Linked DNA regions of Homo sapiens. The protein of the gene in region 1 purifies or fractionates together with the protein of each later gene. This does not show direct contact. Each region holds a gene or a part of one and is shown in the gene's direction. Other genes may lie near its edges. The genes, in order: GLO1, QDPR, ATIC, PPA1, TKT, MRPL13 and HSD17B14.

Evidence for each region.
Region 2: the proteins of GLO1 (region 1) and QDPR fractionate together in Homo sapiens (co-fractionation; one large-scale study listed by BioGRID). This does not show direct contact.
Region 3: the proteins of GLO1 (region 1) and ATIC fractionate together in Homo sapiens (co-fractionation; one large-scale study listed by BioGRID). This does not show direct contact.
Region 4: the proteins of GLO1 (region 1) and PPA1 fractionate together in Homo sapiens (co-fractionation; one large-scale study listed by BioGRID). This does not show direct contact.
Region 5: the proteins of GLO1 (region 1) and TKT fractionate together in Homo sapiens (co-fractionation; one large-scale study listed by BioGRID). This does not show direct contact.
Region 6: the proteins of GLO1 (region 1) and MRPL13 purify together in Homo sapiens (affinity purification with mass spectrometry; one large-scale study listed by BioGRID and IntAct). This does not show direct contact.
Region 7: the proteins of GLO1 (region 1) and HSD17B14 fractionate together in Homo sapiens (co-fractionation; one large-scale study listed by BioGRID). This does not show direct contact.

Annotation. Positions count from the first base shown.
Region 1 is NC_000006.12:38,682,646-38,686,145, reverse strand, and holds part of GLO1 (lactoylglutathione lyase), read left to right. Parts: intron 1-1,631; coding exon 1,632-1,772; intron 1,773-3,270; coding exon 3,271-3,338; intron 3,339-3,500. UniProt on the Homo sapiens protein: Catalyzes the conversion of hemimercaptal, formed from methylglyoxal and glutathione, to S-lactoylglutathione. Involved in the regulation of TNF-induced transcriptional activity of NF-kappa-B. Required for normal osteoclastogenesis.
Region 2 is NC_000004.12:17,502,091-17,505,590, reverse strand, and holds part of QDPR (dihydropteridine reductase), read left to right. Parts: intron 1-1,115; coding exon 1,116-1,212; intron 1,213-3,500. UniProt on the Homo sapiens protein: Catalyzes the conversion of quinonoid dihydrobiopterin into tetrahydrobiopterin.
Region 3 is NC_000002.12:215,346,559-215,350,058, forward strand, and holds the end of ATIC (bifunctional purine biosynthesis protein ATIC), read left to right. Parts: intron 1-200; coding exon 201-383; intron 384-2,535; coding exon 2,536-2,691; intron 2,692-2,977; coding exon 2,978-3,097; 3' UTR 3,098-3,206; downstream 3,207-3,500. UniProt on the Homo sapiens protein: Bifunctional enzyme that catalyzes the last two steps of purine biosynthesis.
Region 4 is NC_000010.11:70,226,930-70,230,429, reverse strand, and holds part of PPA1 (inorganic pyrophosphatase), read left to right. Parts: intron 1-30; coding exon 31-89; intron 90-3,500.
Region 5 is NC_000003.12:53,242,523-53,246,022, reverse strand, and holds part of TKT (transketolase), read left to right. Parts: intron 1-3,500. UniProt on the Homo sapiens protein: Catalyzes the transfer of a two-carbon ketol group from a ketose donor to an aldose acceptor, via a covalent intermediate with the cofactor thiamine pyrophosphate.
Region 6 is NC_000008.11:120,410,651-120,414,150, reverse strand, and holds part of MRPL13 (large ribosomal subunit protein uL13m), read left to right. Parts: intron 1-38; coding exon 39-160; intron 161-3,500.
Region 7 is NC_000019.10:48,816,005-48,819,491, reverse strand, and holds part of HSD17B14 (L-fucose dehydrogenase), read left to right. Parts: intron 1-3,487. UniProt on the Homo sapiens protein: Catalyzes the NAD(+)-dependent oxidation of L-fucose, yielding L-fucono-1,5-lactone, which rapidly converts spontaneously to L-fucone-1,4-lactone. Can also act on D-arabinose and L-galactose, with lower catalytic efficiency. Does not use NADPH.

The DNA of each region.
Region 1 (3,500 bases):
TCTCCCCAGAGATAACTGCTGTCCAGTTTCTTGTGATTTTTTTCTAGAAAAAGGTATTATGAATATATTTATGACATATTTAAAGGACAAAATGAAAACAGATTTATTGAACACTTTTGCCAGGCACTTCAAATGTTATTTTGTTCAGTCTTCACACCAGTCTTAGGAGGTAGCTTTTATCCCCATTTCACAGACGGAGAAACCAAAGCTTAATGAGATGAAGTTACTAGCTCCAAATCCCACAGTTGGCATATGGCAGGGCTGGAACCTGTATCCATTGTCTGATGGGCTCTAATGTAGACTTCCTGTGCAGAGCCCCCAAATAGGGTACAAGTTGACAGTAAGCTGGAAGATTTGAACAGCTGAGAAAAGCAAGTTGCAACAGTTTCATTTCCTTCAGTCCCAACTGATTGGTCCATGAGGGTTGTGTAGTCTGCTTTAGTAGGTGCAGAGATTGTTTTTCATGATTGGAGTATTTGAGGTGTTTGATACTTTATTATAAACATGTTAGAGTAAATCTTATTTGTGATAAGTCAATGCAAGGATCTAAGTGGGCCAAGGTCTATTATATAGCAGTGATAATGAAATAAAAGATTGGAAGCAGAACTCTAGAAACTTTCCATTTGCTATATGGCAATAACAGCCATTTGCTCTTATTGATTATGAACAAAGTCATCTTTGAATAATCTAAAGAAAATCATATATGCATTCTCATGCCACCTTACTCCTTGCCAAATAATCCTATACCATTTAAAGTCATTTAAGGTTCAGGACTTCAGTTATCTTTCTTAAAACCTCAGGATTCATAATTCATTCACTCTCTCTCCCATCAGTCTCTTCTACTGTCTCTTTCCCCTCAGAGAAGCGTAAGTCTTCTTTGTTCCAGAATATTTCTTGCCCTCTGCTCCTTCGCCTACCTCCCCATTGTCACTGCCATGCTTGCTACTGTTTTACCTGCTCACCTGCCATTCTCTCTCCCCAGTACAGTGTAATCCAGCTGATGCTTCCCCACTCTGCTGACATTGCTCTCATGGGACCTTTCCATATCTCATGACCTTTTCTTAGTCTTAATACTGTTTGACCTTTCTACAGTATCTGATACTGTTAGCCACCTTACTGTTGACATTCACGTCTTCTGTGATACTAGTCTGTCCTTCCTCCTTCTTTCTTACCACCTATCCTTAATTTCCTTTCCTAGATGTTTTGGCATAGTAAGAACTCAATAAATGTGTTTATTTAACTGAATGACATATTTATATATGTGTTTGTATGTGTGTATATATATGAAATAGCAACAAGGTTCTTTATATTTTTCAGTACAAATAAACACAGTTCTCTTTTGGAGATAGCCGTTTCTATTTATTAACAAGTACCATAATTTCAGCTAAATGTTACTATATTTACAGAATTGATGAATTACAGAAGTTTTCATTTTTGTATTTCAAATATTTACAGATGCATTTTTCATGATATTTTTTCACTGATTTTTCCTCCTGCTTATTCCATTAAAATAGGCTTACTACATATAGCTCTTCTTTTTAGTAAAACTTGAATATTAAGTTATGTTGATTATAGTATGAATTAGCCTTTCCTGTTGTTAATGATTCAGGCTTGTTGTTTTTTCATTGCAGGCTAATCCAAAAATGTGATTTTCCCATTATGAAGTTTTCACTCTACTTCTTGGCTTATGAGGATAAAAATGACATCCCTAAAGAAAAAGATGAAAAAATAGCCTGGGCGCTCTCCAGAAAAGCTACACTTGAGCTGACACAGTGAGTATGAGTTTCTATATTTATATATATTATAGATTTTTTAAGGTAGTTTTTAAAAATCTTTTTTGTTTTGTTTACTGACCAGTATAATTCAAACCAGATCTGCCTATGACTTCACATTTTTAATAATATATTGAAGTGTTTTTCATGCATCTTTTGATCTTTGTATTGTTCTTGGGCAAATGAGATGTGTTTTTTTTAGAGACAGGCTCTCTGAAGCCTCTAACTTCTAGGTAGTCTTCCTGCCTCAGCCTCCTGAGCACCTTGGACTACACATGTGTGCCACCACACCCAGCTAGTTTTTGTTTGTTTGTTTTTGGTAGAGGCATAGAGGCAAGGTCTCACTATGTTGCCCAGGCTGGTCTCAAACTCCTGGCCTCAAGTGATCCGCCCGCCTCGGCCTCCCAGACTGCTGGGATTATAAGCATGAGCCACCACGCCTGGCCCATTTGTCTTTTATTTTTATTTATTTATTTATTTATTTTTTGAGACAGAGTCTTGCTCTGTTGCCCAGGCTGGAGTGCAGTGGCGCGATCTCGGCTCACTGCAAGCTCTGCCTCCCGGATTCACTCCATTCTCCTGCCTCAGCCTCCCAAGTAGCTGGGACTACAGGCGCCCGCCACTACGCCCAGCTAATTTTTTGTATTTTTTGTAGAGACGGGGTTTCACCATGTTAGCCAGGATGGTCTCGATCTCCTGACCTCGTGATCTGTCTGCCTCGGCCGCCCAAAGTGCTGGGATTACAGGCGTGACCCACCACGCCCGGCCTCCATTTGTCTTTTAGATAAGAGAATATAAGACCCTGAAATTGTAAGATATTTGCCTGTTTGTCTCTAACTAATTTTTAGGTACTATAATTAGTCTTTCAGCATCCAAAATTTTGTTCTTTTATTATTTTGCTACATTTTGGATCCAGAAATGTGATATCATGTGTTCCTTTAAAAATTCTTCAAACCATTTTGTAATAATTAACATTCAAATTTGGTATTTTTATAACTTGAGCACTTAAAAATGTAGGCAATTTCTTTACATTGTTTATCTGCATACTTTAAAAGAGATTGATTTCAGAGTGTGTGATTTCGTGTGTCCCTTGATTCAAAATAAAGCTTTGGAATCAGGCAGGCTTAGATATGAGTCTGTGACTCTAAACAAGTAAGTGGCAGTTTCATCAATAGAATGGAGATGTTCACACCTAGCCCATGGAGCTGTTTTAAGGGTTTAAATGAAATATAAAGTACTTAGCACAATAAATGAGCATTATTATTATTCTTATTATTGTTCTTGTCCAGTACCTGTATTTACTGTCTCTTTAGTCTCGTTAAAATCATACTTTGGCCATTTGTCCTTTCTATAGTTGAAAACTTAATATTTTTGTAGCAGGGGTTAGGCCAATTATGTAAAGTAGCATATAAACGTGGTAAGATTTCAAAGATGTTACTTGCTTTTCAGAATATCTATTCCCTAGGACATTGTAGCTATGTTTTCCTTCCTTTTGTAGCAATTGGGGCACTGAAGATGATGAGACCCAGAGTTACCACAATGGCAATTCAGACCCTCGAGGATTCGGTAAGTTTGCCTGTTTTTATGTGATATATGTAGATTTGTGTGATTTTGTATTATGTATATAATTATGATTTTAATAAACCTAAAACATTAATGTCCTAATTAAGTATGATCAATTTATTAGAGATATGATTATTTTTATTTTCCACAAATAATCTTATTTAG
Region 2 (3,500 bases), on another chromosome or scaffold:
CATGAGCCACTGTGCCCAGCCTGATTTAAATCTTAAGAAGATTGGGCCAGGCGTGGTAGCTCAGTCCTGTTGTCCCAGCACTCTGAGAGGCCGAGGCAGGCGAATCACCTGAGGTCAGGAGTTCGAGACAAGCCTGGCCAACATGGCGAAACCCCATCTCTACTAAAAATACAAAAATTAGCTAGGTGTGGTGGCAGGCGCCTGTAATCCCGGCTACTCAGGAAGCTGAGGCAGGAGATTCGCTTGAACCGGGGAGGTGGAGGTTGCAGTGAGCCGAGATGGCGCCATCGCACTCCAGCCTGGGAGACAAGCGAAACTCCATCTCAAAAAAAAAAAAAAAAAAAAAAGAAATCTTAAGAAGATTGATCTTAATGAAGCAATTGGGATTTGTCATCTCAGCCATTCCAGAGAAATACGGAAGAGTCGTGGTGGATGGCCAGAATTGCCTGTCCTGACAGACTGTTCTTTTCATAAATTATAACAAGAGGGCATACATATATTTTCAATGCTTTAAAATCTCAAACAAACAGAAGCAGAGAGATCATTAAAGTGAACCCCCATGTACTTAATATTACCAACATATTGCTATTGACTGTATTTTTTCTTGGCTCATGATTTTTCTTACAATTTTTCGTTGGCATTTTTTTCAGAGTTGCAGTTAAAGGGATTTTTGGATTGGGGTGGGGAAAACAGGGTTGATCTTCTTTTTGGATTATAATTCTGTGATTTGTGAAGAGAGTCTGGAAAGAAATACACCAGGATGTTAACTATGTGCAGGCAGTGAAGCTCTAGGTGCTTTTTTCTTTTTTTTTTAACCTTTCCCTACTTTTATTTATTAATTGTTGTATTTCAAGGGATGCTCATGTCTCTACCTTTCAGAATGTATACACAGAGACTCTAGATTGTTTTTTAAAAATCACACTGAAGTGTACTTGGGCTTCAATGTCTAAAATGCTCATCAGAGCTTAGTCTTCCGTCTAATTCTCAAAGCATTAATTGCCAGGTACTGTAAACTGGCTTAAAAAGAAGAGAAAAAGAAACTGAGTATCCGTAAAGATGCTAGCCTGTGTTGGCTTACCTTACAGTTTATACATTTTTTTGTTCTTGTGTTGAAGGTGACTGCTGAGGTTGGAAAGCTCTTGGGTGAAGAGAAGGTGGATGCAATTCTTTGCGTTGCTGGAGGATGGGCCGGGGGCAATGCCAAATCCAAGTGTGAGTCCTTTCCTGAGTCACTCATTTGTTCTGCTCTGCTCTTTTTCCAGCTGACAAGGATTGGGTTTGCACTAGGTGACAGGCCAGCTGTTTTTTTGTGTATATCCCGGAATCTTTACAGTTGCTCGGGGAGAGAGTGATTAATGCTCTTAATCCATTTTACGGATAAAGAAGAAGCTTCCCCTGGAGGACGTGAGGGGACGGGGGGCATTGAGTTTGAGTTTAAAGTAGAGGCAGAATGAAATCAGCATGGCCTGTGCCCCAGGCCATGTGCTATTCAGGCATTGGAGGATGTGTAGGAAGTGCAGAGATCATTTAGAAAGTCAGAAGAAGTCAAACTTGAGATTTTACTAAAGCTGATTCCTTTTTTCATCTTTTCTTTTCCCTTCCCTTCCCTCCCCTCCCCTCTACTCCCCTACCCTTTTTCTTAAGACAGAGTCTTGCTCTGTCACCAGGCTGGAGTGCAATGGTGTAATCTCGGCTCACTGCAACCTCTGCCTCCCAGGTTCAAGCGATTCTCCTGCCTCAGCCTCCCGAGTAGCTGATATTACAGGTGCCCACCACCAAGCCCAGCTAATTTTTTGTATTTTTAGTAGAGACGGGGTTTCACCATGTTGCCCAGGCTGGTCTTGAACTCCTGACCTCAGGTGATCCACCCCCTTCAGCCTCCCAAAGTGCTGGGGTTACGGGCGTGAGCCAGTGCGCCTGGCCCATTTTTCAACTTTTCATTATGAACATTTCTAAGCATACCAGAAAAGTTGAAAGAACAGTTCAATGAACACCCTTATATGCTCCATCTAGATTCAGTAACTGTTAACATTTGCTGTACTTGAGTTGAGCTTGTTTTCTTGTGCCTGTGTACTTTGTGCATTGTTTTTTGTTAACTGTTTGAAAATAAGTTTACACCTCACTATATTTCCGCGTGTTTCTCCAAAGAATAAGCCCGTCCTACATTATTATGGTACCATTGTACCTAAGAAAGTTAACAGTGATTATCTAAGATTAATGATATTGAGCCCATATTCAAATTTCCCCAGTTTATTCCATGTCTATTATAGTTCTTTTTCCCTAAACATATTCCACTCAAGGTTTATGTACTGCATTATGTTGTTTTTAGTCTCTTAATCTAGAAAATCTAGAATTTTTAAAAAAATCCCCTGTGATAAGACTTTTTGTCAAGTCCTTGGGAGTTTTCATATAGCATGTCTCACATTCTGAACTTGTCTGAACTTTTCTTTAAGGGGTTGTTTGACTTGTTCCTCTATCCTTGGTATTCCCCGTGAACTGGAATTTGGGTCTAGAGACTCAGTTAGATTTAGCATAAACATTCTTGTGGTGCGAATTCTTCCTGAGTGATGGTGTGTACCTTATATGACATCACCTGGGAAGCTCAGCATGGCAGCTTGCCCTACCCTTAGGGATGCCAAATTTGATGCTTGGTTGAGATGGCAACTGCCAGACTTCCATTATAAAGGTACTTTTTTTCTGTTTGCAGTAAGTCAGTCATCTGTGGGATGTGTGGTATTGTGGTATTGTGTGTGAATGTCCTGTTTCCCAAGTATTATACTTTTCACCCAGTGGTTTTAGTCCTTCGTTGATAATCTCTGCCTGAAGCACTTATTCAGGGGTTGGAAAATGGTAGTTTTCTAATTCTGTCATCCCTTCTACATTTATTAGCCAAAGCCATTTAAAAAGACGTTGACATTCTGTGACCCACATGTCAATGTGAGAGTGGTGCTTTGTGAGGTGATCAGGTTAGCAAAACAGCTTGATAACCTTTTTGTATGTTTTGGGAGCAAGAAATGATAAATGTGGATCCATCAGGTTTTTTTCCTAGTCTTTTTTAGTGGGGAAATGCAATTTCTTGTTTATCACCTACCAACCCCTCCTATATCAGGAGGACATCCTTTTTTGATCACCAGGTACCACATGCCCTTCGAGTTGCCCAGTTGGTGGTGTGACATATGTTACCATTTGTTCTTCCTTATGTCTCTGGCAAGGCCGGGGAGTTAAAACAAGTGTAAAATGGTTGTTATTTTAGCTTTCTTTTGAAGAGTCTTTAAAGCTAACATTAAACTTTCAGACATAAAATATGTAGCTCAGTAAAAGCTCTCTTTATAGCTGTACAGTAATAGGCCCTTGGATTTTTATCACAGAGAAAACCTGACGTAGACATATAGGTTCTTATTACAAATCTGATACCATTCATAAAATAAAACAATCTTTGAATTAAAGCCAGTCCAGCAAATCAGTAAACTCCAGGTTTATTTTGTAAAATTTATTGGCCA
Region 3 (3,500 bases), on another chromosome or scaffold:
AGGTATAAATAGTAGTTATAAACAAACCTCTTACTCCACCCCTTTTAATGACTTAAAAATTATTTATATTTCTCTTATTTTGGCCTGATATGTTCTTCCACAAAACTAATAAATAGGTTTTGGAGAATGTGCACAAAAGATCCTTTTGAGAAGAAAGTGTCTTTGGAAGAGGTGTTCACTTTAATGTCTGTGTTCCTCAGGTTATCGGCATTGGAGCAGGACAGCAGTCTCGTATACACTGCACTCGCCTTGCAGGAGATAAGGCAAACTATTGGTGGCTTAGACACCATCCACAAGTGCTTTCGATGAAGTTTAAAACAGGAGTGAAGAGAGCAGAAATCTCCAATGCCATCGATCAATATGTGACTGGAACCATTGGCGAGGTGAAAGACTTGGCATTGGGTTCTCGGCTGTGTTAATATTCAGTTCAACCCTTTATGTGTAACAGATTTTAACTTCATCACCACACAGAGAAAAAGATACTTTCATTGAAATTCTATGTTGTCTAAAATTGATCATTGAAACTTCTTACACATTTCTCATGTTCTTCTGTCTCATGTAACTTTCTTCATTGTTTTTGACCCCTTTCTGAAACCACAGTCCTCTGTCTTTTTAAATTGCAGCCTTGGTGTAGGTTTGTATATTTGTACTTCCCCTGTTGATTATAAGCTTTTGATGACAAGGACTGCTTTTCACCTACGTCGAGGTGCCTGCCACCACGTCATGCATGGTGCTTGCTGTCCGATGGGTCTGTATTCAACATTAAATACAAATTGCCTGACGGCAGGTAACCCTGGGGTCTTCTCCCACCACATTTTCTACATGTGCCATTAATAACTTGATACATTTTGTTACATTTCATGTTCTTCTGTTTGAAGAAGGTATGTGGGAACATTACAATCGCAAACGTTAGGTAGGTAGCCCGCCAGAAGAAAAGATCTAGCCCAGTTTCTGGACATATTGCGTGCCTAACAAAATGCTGGATGGAAAACAGAAGGCTGCTAATCAAATACTAGATGGTCTTCTGAAGAGCCAATTGACTACCCTCAGTTTTTTATTCAGGAGCAGGAATCAACATAAGTGTCATTGAAGAGTGAGGCTGCAGAATGTAACTGAAGTCCTTAAGATATCTTTTTTTTTTCAACTTTGATACTTGGATTTTTCTGTTTGATATTACCAGTCAACCCCTGCTACTAGTCCTGAAAGAGTCCTGGAAGTGAACAAGAATAAAAGTATGTCAAAGCTAAAACATGACCCAAGATAGAAGCACCTTGTAAAATATGATTAACTGTCTGTGCCACTATGACACAATACTGCAGGCTGGGTAACTTATAAACCATAGACATTTATTTTTCATAGTTCTGGAGGCTGTGAAGTCCCAGATCAAGGTACTGGTGGGCTGAGAGTCTGGGGAGGCCTACCCTCTGCTTCCCAGATGGCACAGCCCTCTCTGGAAAGGACAAACACTGTGTCCTTACTTCACAGAAGGGGCATACTTCCCCTGAAGCCCTTTTATAAGTCTGTAATCCATTCATGAGGGCCCCACCCTCATTGCCCAATAACTTTCTAAAGGCCTTATACTTCTTAATACTGTTGCATTGGGGATTAAGTTTCAACATGAATTTTGGAGTGGATACACACACTCAAACCATAGCAAATATTATGAATTGTGTTTTGTCTACAACTGCCTTTACATTTAGAATAATTTTTGTATAAATGTAGTTAAAGAACTACTCATCTCTTTCCTAGATTGGATATAGAGGGTTTTTTTGAAAACCCTTGGAACACAATTTTTATTTGCTTTCTTTGCTACAGTAGTACCAAAGCAGTAGATTTAAATTAGACGGTAGTCTAATAGACATAAAGTAGTAGATACGAAGTAGATTTAAATTAGAGATTTTAAAACAGTGTATTTTTATGTAAGTAGCTTAGCCAAAAATAAAAAAAATTACATATGTACTTGGAATAAACTGATTTGGAAAGTAAAATGGTATTATCTTTATTTGGTAAACTTAGAATCACTTTTTTTCCTTAATGAAAATATTTCTAAAAGCATCAAAGAGATTCTAGATATGTGAACTTCCATGTAAATAATGGTCATTATTTACAATTAAGAAATCCTGGCCGGGCGCGGTGGCTCATGCCTATAATCCCAGCACTTTGGGAGGCCGAGGTGAGTGGATCATGAGGTCAAGAGATTGAGACCCTCCTGGCCAACATGGTGAAACTCTGTCTCCAAAAATACAAAAATTAGCTGGGTGTGGTGGTGTGCACTTGTGGTCCCAGGTACTTGGGAGGCTGAGGCAGGAGAATTGCTTGAACCTGGGAGGTGGAGGTTGCGGTGAGCCGAGATCGCACCACTGCACTCCAGCCTGGTGATAGTGCAAAACTCCGTCTAAAAAAAAAAAAATAATAATAATAATAAAAACAAGTCCTAAGAAAAATGCCCAGGTGCTTTCTGGCATGGTGATTTGCACCACATAGAACTAAAGACGATGTCAGACCAAGCTTCTTCCTTTCTCTCTCCCCGCATAGGATGAAGATTTGATAAAGTGGAAGGCACTGTTTGAGGAAGTCCCTGAGTTACTCACTGAGGCAGAGAAGAAGGAATGGGTTGAGAAACTGACTGAAGTTTCTATCAGCTCTGATGCCTTCTTCCCTTTCCGAGATAACGTAGACAGAGCTAAAAGGGTAAGTATGGAATTGGGTGCATTTGCTTAGAGTTGAGCATTATGTAGAAACTGTTTCAGAAATCCTGCTTTTGATTTTTAAAAGGTGTGGCAAAGTGATACAGATCAGTAATATTCAGAGAACCATTTGACTTCTCCATTGGGTGGATGGAGAACCCAAATCCTGTTGTTATTTTGCCTTTTTGACTGAGTGTATCTTTGTTAGCATATGCTTTTTAGAGGGGGATTTTGAGTTTTGCAGGTTTTTACATAAAATCGCGTTTTGAAAATCAATATACTTCCCCCAGAGTGGTGTGGCGTACATTGCGGCTCCCTCCGGTTCTGCTGCTGACAAAGTTGTGATTGAGGCCTGCGACGAACTGGGAATCATCCTCGCTCATACGAACCTTCGGCTCTTCCACCACTGATTTTACCACACACTGTTTTTTGGCTTGCTTATGTGTAGGTGAACAGTCACGCCTGAAACTTTGAGGATAACTTTTTAAAAAAATAAAACAGTATCTCTTAATCACTGGATCCATAGTTTTTGGTAGTTGTGTTTTATGTTAAAGATGCAGGCTCTTTGAACTGACACATGACACATAACACATAAATGAGGAATTCCAGAGCACCCCTGCCTACCGGAGCTCAGCCCATCCCACAGCACTGCCCGTGTGAAACATAAACATTAGCAGGAACCAAACGAGCTGAGCAGCCAGAGGACATGGCACAAGTCACTGTGTACAGGCCACACTTAAGGACTGGGAGTTATACCCATCTTAAAGGTGGAGTATTGATGTAAATTACCTAGAATTCTTCTGCATGGGAGTT
Region 4 (3,500 bases), on another chromosome or scaffold:
AGTAATAACTTTTTCTAATTTATTTTGCAGAAAATGAGAAAGGACAATATATATCTCCATTTCATGATATTCCAATTTATGCAGATAAGGTAAGGCATCCTTGTTTTTGGACACAGTCTCTTTACTCAGATCAGCTAGTTCTACATATGAATTTTCTTATATGTCTCTCAACAAGTGCTTAAAATGCCTCGTTGTGCTGTGAGCTAAAGGTCTGTTGATTAGGCTGGGCGTGGTGGCTCACGCCTGTAATCCCAGCACTTTGGGAGGCTGAGGCGGGTGGAGGGCTTGAGTCCAGAAGTTCAAGAACAGCCTGGGCAACATGGTGAAACCCTGTCTCTACAAAAAATACAAAAATTAGCCGGGCATGGTGGCATGTGTCTGTAGTCTCAGCTACTTGGAAGGCTGAGGTGAGAGGATCGCTTGTGCCTGGGAGGCAGAGGTTGCAGTGAGCCGAGATGGCACTACTGTACTCCAGCTGGGTGACAGAGTGAGACCCTGTCTCAAAAAAAAAGGTCCATTGACTAAATAAGAAGTTAGTCTTAAAACTAGATTATTTAGTTAAAGGAGCAAATATAATTTGGGGAAGGAGAGGAGGAGTAAAAGCAAAAGTATTTAATCTGTCTTGGAAAAAAAAAAGAAAAAATTACATTGGTCCTTTTTGTATGTGTATTTGGAACTAAAGTCGTAATACTTCATTACTGGTTCTAAAATAAACCAGGTAGCCAGCACAGAATTTTGGCTGTGGGATCTTTATGAAACAGTAAAAGTAAACTAGATTATTCAATGAGTATAGGAAAATTTAGTAACGGGCTAGTACCGTTAAGATTTGCACAGTTAAGATAGAGTTAATACAGGTAGGCACACAGACTTCTAAAAGGACATAGCTGTTCCTGTATACACCAGTGAGAAGAAACCTAACTTTAATACAGATTGGTAGGCTTACCACAAATTGTAAAAGTCTTTACTTTTCTAGGGGAAAAAGAAGTCTACAACTGTATACACCAGAATAGCTGAGTGTGGGGCAATTGTAATCCCACTTGGGAGGCTGTGCTGGGAGGATCACTTGAGTCCAGGAGTTTGAGACCAGACTGGGCAACATAGCAAGAACCTGTCTTAGGAAAATAAATAACAATAAAATATATATCAAAATAGTTATGATTCGTGGGACTGCCAGTGACTCTTGGTTTTATTTTCATTTTTGTCTTTTTATATTGTCTAATCTTTTTACAAAGAACATGTGTTATAAGAACAACTTTAAACAGTCATTTTAAAAAACACATCTTTTCTTACTCTCCTTTCCAATGGAAGCAGTTTGTACTGTATTTAGCAACTTAACACAAGGACAAATATCTTATTCTTTTTCTACCTTTCAGTTTTTTTCCTTCAGTAAGGAAGTTTGATTCACATTGAGTACAAAGGTTTTTGAGTTGTAAGAGTTACATAGGTTATTGACTTTCTTTAGCTAGATGTCAATATACAACACGAACATCACTTTGCAGTGCACGTCTAGAATAATAGTAATTTTGTTCTTGTGTGTGCTGTCTTACTGTTTTTCTGGGCCTGACTATTAGATAGAAATAGACACATTCATTGCACTTCTACCAGGAAGTTTGCTGCAGTTCTGTACTGCCTGAAATTCCAATTTTTACATTGCTTCCCAGGAGCCTTCCTGGGTAAGACTCCAATTAGAGGCAATGGAGCAAACAGCCCTAGGCCAATTATGTGCCACAAATACAGGAGGGACTTCTAATTGGCATGTGTTTTTCCTGTGGGAGTGTCAGAGTGGTATTTATTCAGAAACTCGAATTTGTTACATCTGATTTCCTGGGAGTTGATATAAACTGCAGAATCCTTCCCTCTTCAATTGGCCCCATTGGGTTGGCTTGAATTATCTGCTTGTTGTATAATAGCATGTATATCATACTGTAGCATCTCAGACCATTTTGAGCAATGAAGAGGTATAAAATGATGACCCTAAGTTTATTGATAATACCCTGGCATACAGGTATGCTACAGGTAGGAAAACATTTTCTTGACATAGAGCTATTTTCCCAGTGTTCTAAGTGACTGTATTCCTACCAAGGACCAGAATGATCATAGATGTTTTGGTACCTACTCTTATTGCTGCTTCAGGTTACTCCAAAATAGGAAACAGGCTACATTTTGGTGTCCTGTTAAGTGTGTTCACTTAGATTACTCTCAGACACTGAAGCCTTATAAGGGACTGGTTGTGTCTATAAAGTGGATTACTCAAAGGAAGACTCTGCCCTTGGCACGCCCTGTCCCAGCTCAAAAGCACAAGTTCTTATGACTCTGGATTTTACCAGTAGTCTAGACCTCAGTGGACCTTGGGCAGAAGCCTTCCTGCCTGAGAGGCTGGAAGGAATTCTTTTGTTTTGTTTTAAAGGAAGTTACTTGTTTAAAACACAAATAAAGGTGTGGTAGACATCATTTTGGATTATAGCCTTAAAAAAAAAATCTGATTAACTTGATTCATTAGAGTGTGATTTTCTTTCTTTTGTATAAAAAATCTATTGTGATTAAGTTTACATGAATACATTCTCACGGGCTTGGCCTTGGACTTTATTCCTAATATGGTCAGTCATCCGAGGGATTATAATGAGGGAATGTCATGATCTAGTGAGCATGTACCTTTAACACAGCTCAGTCAGCTCCACTAAGGAAAAATGTCCAAGGGCTCATATTGATATCAGACTAAGGAAAAATGCCCAAGGGCTCATATCCATATCAGACTTTTTTTTTTTTTTTTTTTTTTTTTGAGATAGGGTTTCACTTTGTCACTCAGGCTGGTGTGCAGTGGCATGATCTTGGCTTACTGCAGCTTCAACCTCTCAGGCACAAGTGATCCTCCTGCTCCAGCCTCCTGAATAGCTGGAACCACAGGCATACACCACCACGCCCAGCTAATTTTTCTATTTTTTTGTAGAGACAGGGTTTCCCTATGTTGCCCAGGCTGGTCTCGAACTCCTGGTTTCAAGCGATCTGCCCACCTCAGCCTCCAGAAGTGCTGGGGTTGCAGGCGTGAGCCACTGTGTCCAACCCATATCAGGACCTTTTAATGTGGATATTCAGTTTGGCATATGCCATTAGGTAATCAGTCCAGCCAGTTCTGGAAAATCTTGTGACTCGCGTACCCTGCTTTGATTATTTCCGAATCCAGTGGGTAGAGAAGGTAAAGGCAAGGGCTCACTGGATATTTTTAAATTGTAGGGATGTCCTTTGCTCTGGGTCAATTTTAGGATCAAATATAAAAGCACCTATAGCTCAGAGTATCTTCTAACATAAAACTTCTGAGATACCAGAAATTTTCCAAAACATGGTATAAACAGTATGAAACACTGGGTAGATAAAAGCTTTCTCTAAATCTTAAAGTGCTCAAATATCATGACCTGATTTTTTAGTTTTAGAAATCAGATATTTTTCTATTCCATATCTTAAACTTTCATGTTAAATTCTAGTTCTGACAATGTAGGGTTCTA
Region 5 (3,500 bases), on another chromosome or scaffold:
GTGCTGGGATTACAGGTGTGAGCCACTGTGCCCGGCCTGTTTGTGTTTCCTGTAGAATGTGTGGAACATGTGAGTACATTTCACTGTATGTTCCTACTGGTGAAGTTGCTGGGAGTTAAGGGATGTGCATCTTCGGCTACTGATCTGGTTTATTTTTAATGCTTGAAAGATTACTTAGGTTCTCTATTTCTTCTTGAGTCAGTTTTGGTAAATTATTTTCATTATTGTTATTATTTTTTAGACAGAGTCTCACTCTGTTGCCCAGGCTGGAGTGCAGTAGCATGATCTCGGCTCATTGCAACCCACGCCTCCGGGGTTCAAGCTATTCTCCTGCCTCAGCCTCCCAAGTAGCTGGGATTATAGGCATGTGCCACCACGCCCGGCTAATTTTTGTATTTTTAGTAGAGACGGGGTTTCACCATGTTGGCCAGGCTGGTCTTTGAGCCGCTGACCTCAGGTGATCTGCCTGCCTTGGCCTCCCAAAGTGCTGGAATTACGGGTGTGAGCTACCGCGCCCAACCTGACATCCATTATCTCTTGAAGGAGCCCATCTGGAGGGTGAGGGAGCCTCTCTGGCCTTTTCTTGCATAGAAACCTGTGAGCAGGTGGAGTGAGCACTAAAGCGATGACAGAGATTCTCCTGGCCAGGGGACATCTGGAAGAATATATATTGTCCTGGAGGGGAGTGGAGAGGGGGCTTTTTTTTTTTTTTTTTTGAGATGGAGTGTTACTCTTGTTGCCAAGGCTGGAGTGCAATGGTGCAATCTTGGCTCACTGCAACCTCTGGCTCCCAGGTTCAAGTGATTCTCCTGCCTCAGCTTCCCGAGTAGCTGGGATTACAGGCGTCCACCACCACACCTGGCTAATTTTTTGGTATTTTTAGTAGAGATGGGGTTTTACCATATTGGCCAGGCTGGTCTTAAACTCCTGACCTCAGGTGATCCGCCTGCCTTGACCTCCCAAAGTGCTGGGATTACAGGTGTGAGCCACTGCCCCCAGCCTGGAGGGGGCTTTAAGAGACTTTCTTTGGGCCTAGCTCTAAGCTTGCCACACCACCGTCACAGGTTGAACTAATTGGGGTTGTAAGTGGACTGTTTTGGTCAAGGCAGGGTGTGTTAGTTTTTTTTTTTTTTTTTTGAACAGTCAAGTGTGCTTGTTAGCCCTGTTTATCACAGAGTCAGGGTATACAGTAAGTACCCTGTAGCCCCTCCACCGTGCTCCTCACCCCATCTCTCGCCAGTGTTCACCCAGAGTTGTCACACACAGCACCACGGGATGGGGCGTCCACCTGCAGTTGTGCAGGCAGTCTGGAATGGCAGGAAAAACTCTGGCCCTGAGGAGGCCACAGGCTTAAATGTATGCCTTTGGCCCCAAAGGCCCGCTAGGAAGTTGAGCTTGAAAGTAACTGTCTCCTGTGTGCTCAGTGCTTTACAGTGTGCAGAGCCCGGTCTCAATCCTTGGTGTATTTCTCCCCTCTTGCCTGCCTGTGGCCAGCAGGAGTGGGTGGTGTCACCATCCCTGCCTGTAGATAAGAGCTGCAGGTGCTGAGAGGGTTGGCAGTGGTGGCGGCTGCTAGAGACCTGGGTACTGTGCATGCTGCGTTATCTCACTGTGTCTCCCAGACACTCTCCCAAGTGAAGAAGCTGAGCCCCGGGTTGACGAAGCACTTGTTGAAGTCACGAAGCCCAAGTGGCACAGCTCACCTCCCCAACCCAGGATGCTCTGCCGAGGGAGAGCCCCAAAAGCTCTGGGGAAGAGTGCGGGGACACCTGGCTCCTAAGCGTTCTTCTTTTGTGCGTGTTTACTTGGTAGAAGTGAAGAGAGTGGCCGCAGCAGGCTGGATGCAGCCTTTGGAAGGAATGAAAGGCTGCAGGCCTAGCAAGGAAGGCTTAAAATCAGCTGCACGTTCTACTTCTCACCCTTGGTCACCTCGCAGCTGACCTTCCTCTCTCCACGTTTACTCTATCTGGGCCTGGGTGTGCTTCTGCCACACACAGAAAGAGCCTGTGCCACACCATTTCTCCCTGGAACCCCTTCTGGTGGCCAATGGGACTGTCACCCCGGGGTGTCGAGGTGGATGGGGCAGGTGGAGCCCTGCACTTACCGTCCTTGTTCTTCCCCGGAACAGTTTGGCCCAGTGTCCACCCACATCCTTCTCCCACCAAGGATCCCTCCTAATGGGACCATGGCTTTAGAAACAGGACCCCTCAGGGCCGGGGCTGCCCTTGGAGGTGGGAAGGACGAGAGGTCAGCCTGAGGTGACCTCCAGTTGAAGCTGGCCCTGGGAGCGTGGGATTAGGGTGGCCTCCAGTTGAAGCTGGCACTGGGAGCGTGGGATTAGGGTCCCTGCCAGGCAGAAAAGGGTTTCTCGTTTACCATGTCCTCCCCTCCCTCTTTCAGGTGTAGTGTCTTTTCCCATGACCGGGAGTTCATAGAAATAGTTAAGTATAAGATGATCGTGTGCGAGAATGTTGGTACTAAACCAGCATGGACAGTTTTCTGGATTTCTCTACTACTAACTTGTCTGCACTGAGCGTGACTCACCCCTAACCTGGTGGGAGCGCTGATTGGAGGGGCGGGAGGCTGGCGGCGTGAGCTCCAGATGGTGCATGTGCCCTTGGGCTTGGCATGCGGCGTGTCTTCGTGTGAAGGACCTCTGGGAGCAGCGAGAGGGCTGAGCTGAGCTGAGCTGAGCTGCATGTGGAGGGGCCCTCCCGGGAGGCCTGTGCCCTGAGGCTGAACTTTTAACAAAACCCTGGGACCAGAGGGCTTCAGGGCTGATCAGGACCTGCAGCGCTTCCTGCTGGGAAGCAGGAAGCAATAGAAAGTTTACGCTTTCTATTGCTCAGGAGCCGCTCAGTGATTAAAACAAGTCTAAAAAGCCAAGGGGACTCCGTGGCCCCACCACTCCCAGGCTGGAAGGCAGGTTCTTGCTTTGTCAGCCCTTCCTCAGCCCTTGTCCATAGGCAGAAGGGGTTTTTATTAATACATGATTGTAGCCTTGTAGGAGATGAGATTATGTGTCTTGCTTTGAAAATTCTACACAAAAGCCTGTTTCCTAGTTGCTACAGCAGCCCTCAAACTGCCCATTTCTAAAGCTTTCAAGTAGCCCAGTGATGCAATTGGAAAGCCCAAGGCCCAGTTTTTCAGGCTACCACACCCCATGCGTGGAGGCTGCTGGGAGGTCTGTGGTAACTCCATGAGCCTCAGTCCCTTCCTCCCTGCCCCATGGGCTCAGAGGCCCAGCACCCCTGGGTGCTGAGAGGGCAGGGTGCCCTTCACAAGTGGGCAGTGTCCGGGCAGTCCTGTCAGGATGTGGGGTCAGTCGTAGGAATGCCGGCACCCCTTGGCTGCTGAGTCCTTAGACTCCTGGGGGCCACTAGGTGGGAACTGGGTTCTACCTGACAGCAGCTGCCCCCAGCCGCAGTGCTAGCCTTGGGCTGAGTCTTCTGTGCTAGATCTCTCCTGGGCCCCTCCTTCCTTCTTACTCAAGTCCAACC
Region 6 (3,500 bases), on another chromosome or scaffold:
TTTTAAGAAAATTAAGTCTAAATTTTTTTTTAATGTAGTATATTCCAGAAGATATTCTTAAGAATTTAGTAGAGGAGCTTCCTCAACCACGAAAAATACCTAAACGTCTAGATGAGTACACACAAGAAGAAATAGACGCCTTCCCAAGATTGTGGACTCCGTAAGTGTTTCCCTTCTTCTTGTTTTTTTTTCTTTTGATATCCTCTGTTTCCTCAACCATATGATTAAATAAGATCCTTGAGGGCGGGAAGAGTGAACTCATTTTTTTGCTCCCCTGGGAACTCAGCAGCTACTACCTACAAATAAACTCTAGATGTAGGTATTAGAACCAAAAATTTTTAAGCATTAAGACCTTGCTAGATAAGTGCGAGGATGTTCATAGGTTCCTATAATTATCAAGTATTTTGTTTGGGCTGATGGTAGTCTTTAGGAATGATATATGAATTGTTATTAATCTAAAACGTAATGATTCTCAGTTTTCCACATTGTTTCATAAGTTAAAAATATTATCTAATGAAAAGTCATTAATTTTGGATACTTGTTGTCTTGGTCCAAAAAGAAAAACAAAATAAAAAAATACTTTTTGCTCTCCTCTGTACAGTTTCCTCTACCTAAGGCCGTAAAGCTGCTAAGATGTAACATTCTTTCTCCCATCTAGTTGTTTCTAGGCTTTTTTGCCAGGGCTATCCAGATGATGAAGCATTTAAGTGTAACTTCCTCAGGCAGTCCTTCCTGTAATCTTTGAACCGGGTTAGGCTCTCATTATGGGTTCTCATCGTACACTTCCATTTACTGATTTACTCTAATTATATATTTGTGTGATTATCTGTTTACTATCTGTCTTTCTTGCTAGACTTCATGAGGGAGCTACATGTTTGTCTTATTTAGCACTGAGCATGGTGCTGGACAAATTAAATAGACACTCAGCCAGTATTTATTGAATAAATTAATTAAGACTTTTATCAGCTTTTATAAGTGACTTTAGGAAAGAATCTCTAGAAAATATGAAGCAAAGACCACTTTTCATTTTTTTCACAGCATTTATCACTATCTACTGTACTCTCATTTATATGTGTGTCTGTTATTTGTCTCTCTACACTCATGGCAATAATAAAAATAGCAAGCACTAATAAAGCATTTATTGTGTGCTTTACATGTATTAATCTACTAATCCTCAGAGCAATCTAGTGAGTCAGTACAATTTTTATTTTTATTTTTATTTTTTAAATGAGAAAATATGGGCACAGAGAGATAAAGCAACTTGACTAATATCACATAGTTATAAATGGTATATTAAGGATTCAAGCCTGAGTGACTAGCTGCTGGGTCATGCTCCTAACTCTGCTGGAATGCCCCTTCTTGCATTGGCATGTCAGCTTCAAGGGGGCAGGGACATTGTCTGGTTCAACATTTACATCTTAGAAATACTTAGAAACCCTTAGAAATAGTACTTGGTGCATAATGGGCACTCAGTAAGTGTTTTGGAAAGAATGAAGACATGAGCTCTTTCCCTAAAAATTAATTGTGAAATTTTCATGAATAGCTTAAGTTTTAGAAAAATCCAAACCAAGGTTCAAATCTTGCCTCTATAGTAGCTGACTCTATAACCTTAAGTAAGTCATCTTTCATTTTGAGCCTTAGTTTCTTCATCTCAACTCAGTTTCTTCAGTTGTAAATTAGAGCCACTCCATACTTCTGAGAATTGCTGGAAGGAGTAAGTGAGCAACTTAGCACACTTGAAGTGTTGACTAAGTTTTTAATAGGAGAATTTTTTTGCTATTGCAAATTCTATACCATTTTAACATGCTTGCTAGTGTAGAGTTTTATTGTAAATGTACTTAAGTTGATGTAGTTTGAAAATATTCAGCTTTGATAAGTTATATACTAAAAACATTTTAAGTTGTCCTTGAAGTTTTGACAGGTTACCTTCCTATAACAGTTCTGTAAATATGTATCTGATTTTCTTACAGAAACACCATCATAAATGAATTTATATTCCTGACCAAGAGGGGTGTGGTACTCTTTTTTTTAAAATTAGAAATAATAAAGTTGCTGTTAAATCATGTATGTGCAAATACATATTATACACTTGAAGTCATATTTCATGAATATTCTAAAGTGTATTCTAAATCAGTTAAACTGGCACCACACTAATATAATAATTCACAAATTATATTTAGTGTTATTATAGTCAGAGTACTGACCAAAATTTTCATTCTGCTGAATGATTTCTGCTTTCTTTTGAAACAAATTAGAAAGTGCCTGAGTGCCTTCATTTTATTAATAGAATTAGAAAGGGCTTTTCTATAGCTATTTTTAAGGAGATTTTTAGAGAAACTTAGAGCCACTAGATGCATTTTTTAGTTACTACTCTGGGAATAGATTTTCCTGCCCTCTCTCTTCATTCCAGATTTCCCTGAGGCAGGAATATGCATTAGACACTAGGTTTTCCTTTATGCTTTATTAAGGTTGTGATTTTTTCCTCATAAATAGTCACACGCATATGTTAACTTGTATTTTCAAAATAGTAAAATAGGTATACGTTTACTGAAACGTATGGATAGTATAGGTGTACTAGTCATTTAATATAAATCATTCTGTATTTCTTTCTCCCTGCACATTTGAGCTGACATCAAGTCCAGTTAGTCTTTATTACGTGAAAAGTGTGTGACCAGGAAAAATATAGTCATTTTTGGATTAACCAAAAGCTTATCTAAGAAATAGATGATCATTTACTTCAAGGCTCTTGAGTAGAACTTTCTACAATGATGAAAACAACTCTCAGCCAGGCATGGTGGCTCATGCCTATAATCCTAGCACTTTGGGAGGCCAAGGCAGGAGTACCTCTTGAGTTCAGGAGTTCAAGACCGGCCTGGGCAAGATGGCAAGACCCTGTCTCTACAAAAACAAAAAACAAAAAAATTAGCCAGGTGTGTTAGCACACACCTGTAGTCCCAGCTACTTGGTAGTCTGAGGCAGGAGGATCTCTTGAGCCCAGGAGTTTGCAGCTGCAGTGAGCCATGATCATGCCACTGCACTCCAGCCTGAACAACAGAGCAAGACTTGTCGAGAGAAGGGGAGGGAGAGGGAGTGGGAGAGGGAGGAGAGGGAGAGGGAAGCCTGGCGCGGTGGATCACCTAAGGTTGGTAGTTCAAGACCAGCCTGGCCAACATGGTGAAACCCCATCTCTAATAAAAATACAAAAAAAACTAGCCGGATATGGTGGTGGGCACCTGTAATCCCAGCTACTCTGGAGGCTGAGGCAGGAGAATTGCTTGAACCCGGGAGGCGGAGGTTGCCGAGATCGCACCATTGCACTCCAGCCTGCGTGACAAGAGCAAAACTCCATCTCAAAAAAAAAAGAGAGAGAAAGGAAGGAAGGAGGGAGGGATGGAGGGAGGGAGGTAACTCTCTATTCGAGCTTCAAATACATTAGCTACTGTTGACGTGTGGCTCTTGAGCCCTTGCACTGTGGCTAATGTGACTAAGGAACTGAATTT
Region 7 (3,487 bases), on another chromosome or scaffold:
AGGGCCTTGAAGGGCATGCTGAATCATCTGGTCTTTATGTCAAGAGCAATAGGGAGCTGTGGCAGGTATTTGAGCAAGGGAGTGATGTGATCCTGTTAGTATTATTAACAGATCATAGGCTCTGGCTCCTGTAGGTATGAGGGACAAATCTGAGGGTTAAGCGTGAGAGTGGGAGAACCAGTATTAGGAGTTGATTGCATTTGAGCTGGGCATGGTGGCTCACGCCTGTAATCCCAGCACTTTGGGAGGCCGAGGTGGGCAGGTTGCCTGAGGTCAGGAGTTCGAAACCAGTCTGGCCAACATGGAGAAACCCCGTTGCTACTAAAAATACAAAAATTAGCCAGGCGTGGTGGTAGGCGCCCGTAATCCCAGCTACTCGGGAGGCTGAGGCAGAAGAATTGCTTGAACCTGGGAGGTGGAGGTTGCAGTGAGCCGAGATCGTGCCACTGCACTCAAGCCTGGGTGACAGAGCAATACTCTGTCTCTGAAACAAACAAACAAAAAAAGGAGTTGATTGCATTTGTCCAAGGGAGAAGTGGGGGCCTTCAAGGCCTCGTGATCTGGCCCCTGTTCTTCTCTGACCTCACCTCCGGCCACACTGGCCTCATTGCTCCCAAACACAACAGGCCTGCTCCTGTCTCAGAACCTTGGCACTTAAGAACTGGGGTCTCAGTATGTTGCCCAGGCTGGCCTTGAACTTCTGGACTGAAGCGATCCTCCCACCTCAGTCTCCCAAAGCACTGACATTACAGGTACCTGCCACTGCACCTGGCCCCCAGCGGGTCCTTGATATAGAGCAGGTGCTTAGCAACCTTGAGGGGTGTGGGGAGAAGGACACTCAGGGAGTGTGGGACAAATATTTACTGAGCTCCAGCTGTGTGCCTCGTGCTGGGGTGAGGGTGGCAAGATCCGTGTCTCAGCCCTGGTGAGACTCATGTTTGCAGGGTCAGGTGGGGGAGGAGATTAAACAGCAGGGCAGGTGCACAGACTGAGAGAGAAATGGAGCAAGGCAGGTGGGGTGGGCACTGGGAGGGAGGGAGGGTGTCACGGCTGGTGGGAGTGAGAGGAGGCGAGGATGAGAGGTTCCCTGAGGAGGAGGGCAGAGGCTGGTCAATGCCCACATCATTCACGTTCATATTAGAGCATGGTTTCTCTTTTTCTTTTTTCTTTTTTCTTTTTTTTTGAGACAGTCTTTATCTGCTGCCCAGGCTGGAGTGCAGTGGTGCGATTGTGGCTTACTGCAACCTCTGCCTCCCGGGATCAAGAGATTCTCCTGCCTCAGCCTCCCGAGTAGCTGGGATTACAGGCACGCACCACCACACCCGGCTAATTTTTGTATTTTTAGTAGAGATGGGGTTTTGCCATGTTGACCAGTCTGGTCTTGAACTCCTGACCTCAGGTGACTGCCCGCCTCAGCCTCCCAAAGTTCTAGGATTACAGGTGTGAGCCACTGTGCCTGGCCTAAAGTTCTTAATACTTAGAATTGTGAGAAATTGTTGTTTGTTTATGGGTTTGGGTCTCAGCCTGTCCAGCAGCAAATGCTGGTGCTGTCAGGTGTCACGTGATGCCCTGCGGGCGTCAATCATCCCTCCATTCCTTAGTCTCCTCGCTTGTGAAATGGGACTCTCAGCTGTACCTCCTTCTTGTAGGTACAGGAGAATGTTAGAGGGATGAAATGAGCTAATCCATGTAAATTGCTGAGGACAGGGCTGGACACATACCAGGTCCTCCATTCATTCATTAATTCACCCATTCATTCATTCAAAGGATATTTATGAAGCATGTGCTATGTGCCAGGCACCTTTAGTGCTGGGGAAGAAACAAAATAAGAAATCTTGACCATCCCTCATAGGTTTCTGCATGCTGGTGGGAGAGACAGAACATGAACAAACAAGTAAAATATATATGGCCTGTCAGAAGGGAGTGTGTGACACAGAGAAAAGACATCTGAAAGAGGGAAGGGGACCCAGGGGTGTGGGAACTGCAGTTTTATTTTATTATTTTATTTTTTGGGGCCAGGCGTGGTGGCTGACGCCTGTAATCCCAGCACTTTGGGAGGCCGAAGCAGGCAGATTACTTGACCTCAGGAGTTCAAGACCAGCCTGGCTAACATGGTGAAACCCCATCTCTACTAAAAAATACAAAAATTAGCCAGGCATGGTGACACATGCCTGTAGTCCCAGCTACTCAGGAGACTGAGGCAGGAGAAGGGCTTGAACCTGGGGGGAGGAGGTTGCAGTGAGCCAAGATGACATCACTGCACTCCAGCCTGGGCAACAGAGTGAGACTCTGTCTCAAAAAATAAAACAAAAAATATTTTTTTGTTGTTAAAAAAAATAAAGACAGGCCAGGCACAGTGGCTCAAGCCTGGAATCCCAGCACTTTGGGAGGCCGAGCCAGGCAGATCATGTGAGATCAGGAGTTCGAGACCAGCCTGGCTAATATAGTGAAACCCTGTCTCCACTAAAAAAAAAAAAAAAAAAAAAAAATTATCCTGGTGTGGGGGCACATGCCTGTAGTCCCAGCTACTCGGGAAGCCGAGGCAGGAGAATTGCTTGAACCTGGGAAGTGGAGGTTGCAATGAGCTGAGATTGCACCACTGCATTCCAGCCTAGACAACAGAGTGATACCCTATCTGAAAGAAAGAGAGAGAGAGAGAGAAAGAAAAGAAAGAAAGAAAGAAAGAAAGAAAGAAAGAAAGAAAGAAAGAAAAAGGGTCTTGCTAAGCTGCCCATGCTGGCCTCAAACACCTGGGTTCAAGCAATCCTCCCTCCTCGGCTTCCCAAAGTGCAAGGATTACAGGTGTGAGCTAGTGATCCTGGCTTGCAGCTTTAAACAGTATAGCCAGGGAAGACCTCACTGAGGAGGTGACCTCGGATCAGGGTTTGAGGGAGCTGAGGGAGTGTTTACCCAGGAAAGTCCCCGTTTAGCATTGACACTGTGGACTGAAAATACCATGTCCCCAAAAACCCTTCAGTCCTGGGCAAACTGGGATGGCTGGCCACCCTAAGAGTGGGTCATGTGGCTCTCTTAGGAAAAGGCACTCCAGGCAGAGGGAACAGCAAGTTCAAAGGCCCTGAGGTTTGAACACGCAGGGTGTGTCGAAGATACAGCACGGAAAAGGGTGGAGGTCGTTTGGGAGGGGAGCAGAAATGGCTTGAAAGAGTTGGTGGGGGGAACCGGGCAGGGAGCTCATTTAGATTCCCACTCGGAGAGCCTGCTAGGGGTGCTGCCTTGTACCAATTAGTCTTAAGTGGCAGGGACAGGCCTTGCCTGGCCAGCTCAGCTTTCTAAGGCAAGCGAGATCAAAGATAGAATTTGAGTTTATCCAAGGTCATGTGTAGTCAACGAACACACACGCACACACACAGAGAGAGTATTTAGGGACTTCCCAGGTGGCCAGGGAGTTGAATTGCAGGAGAAACGGTGGCAGGAAACAGTGCATTTCTTTTTTTTTTTTTTTTTTTTTCTGAAACGGAGTCTTGCT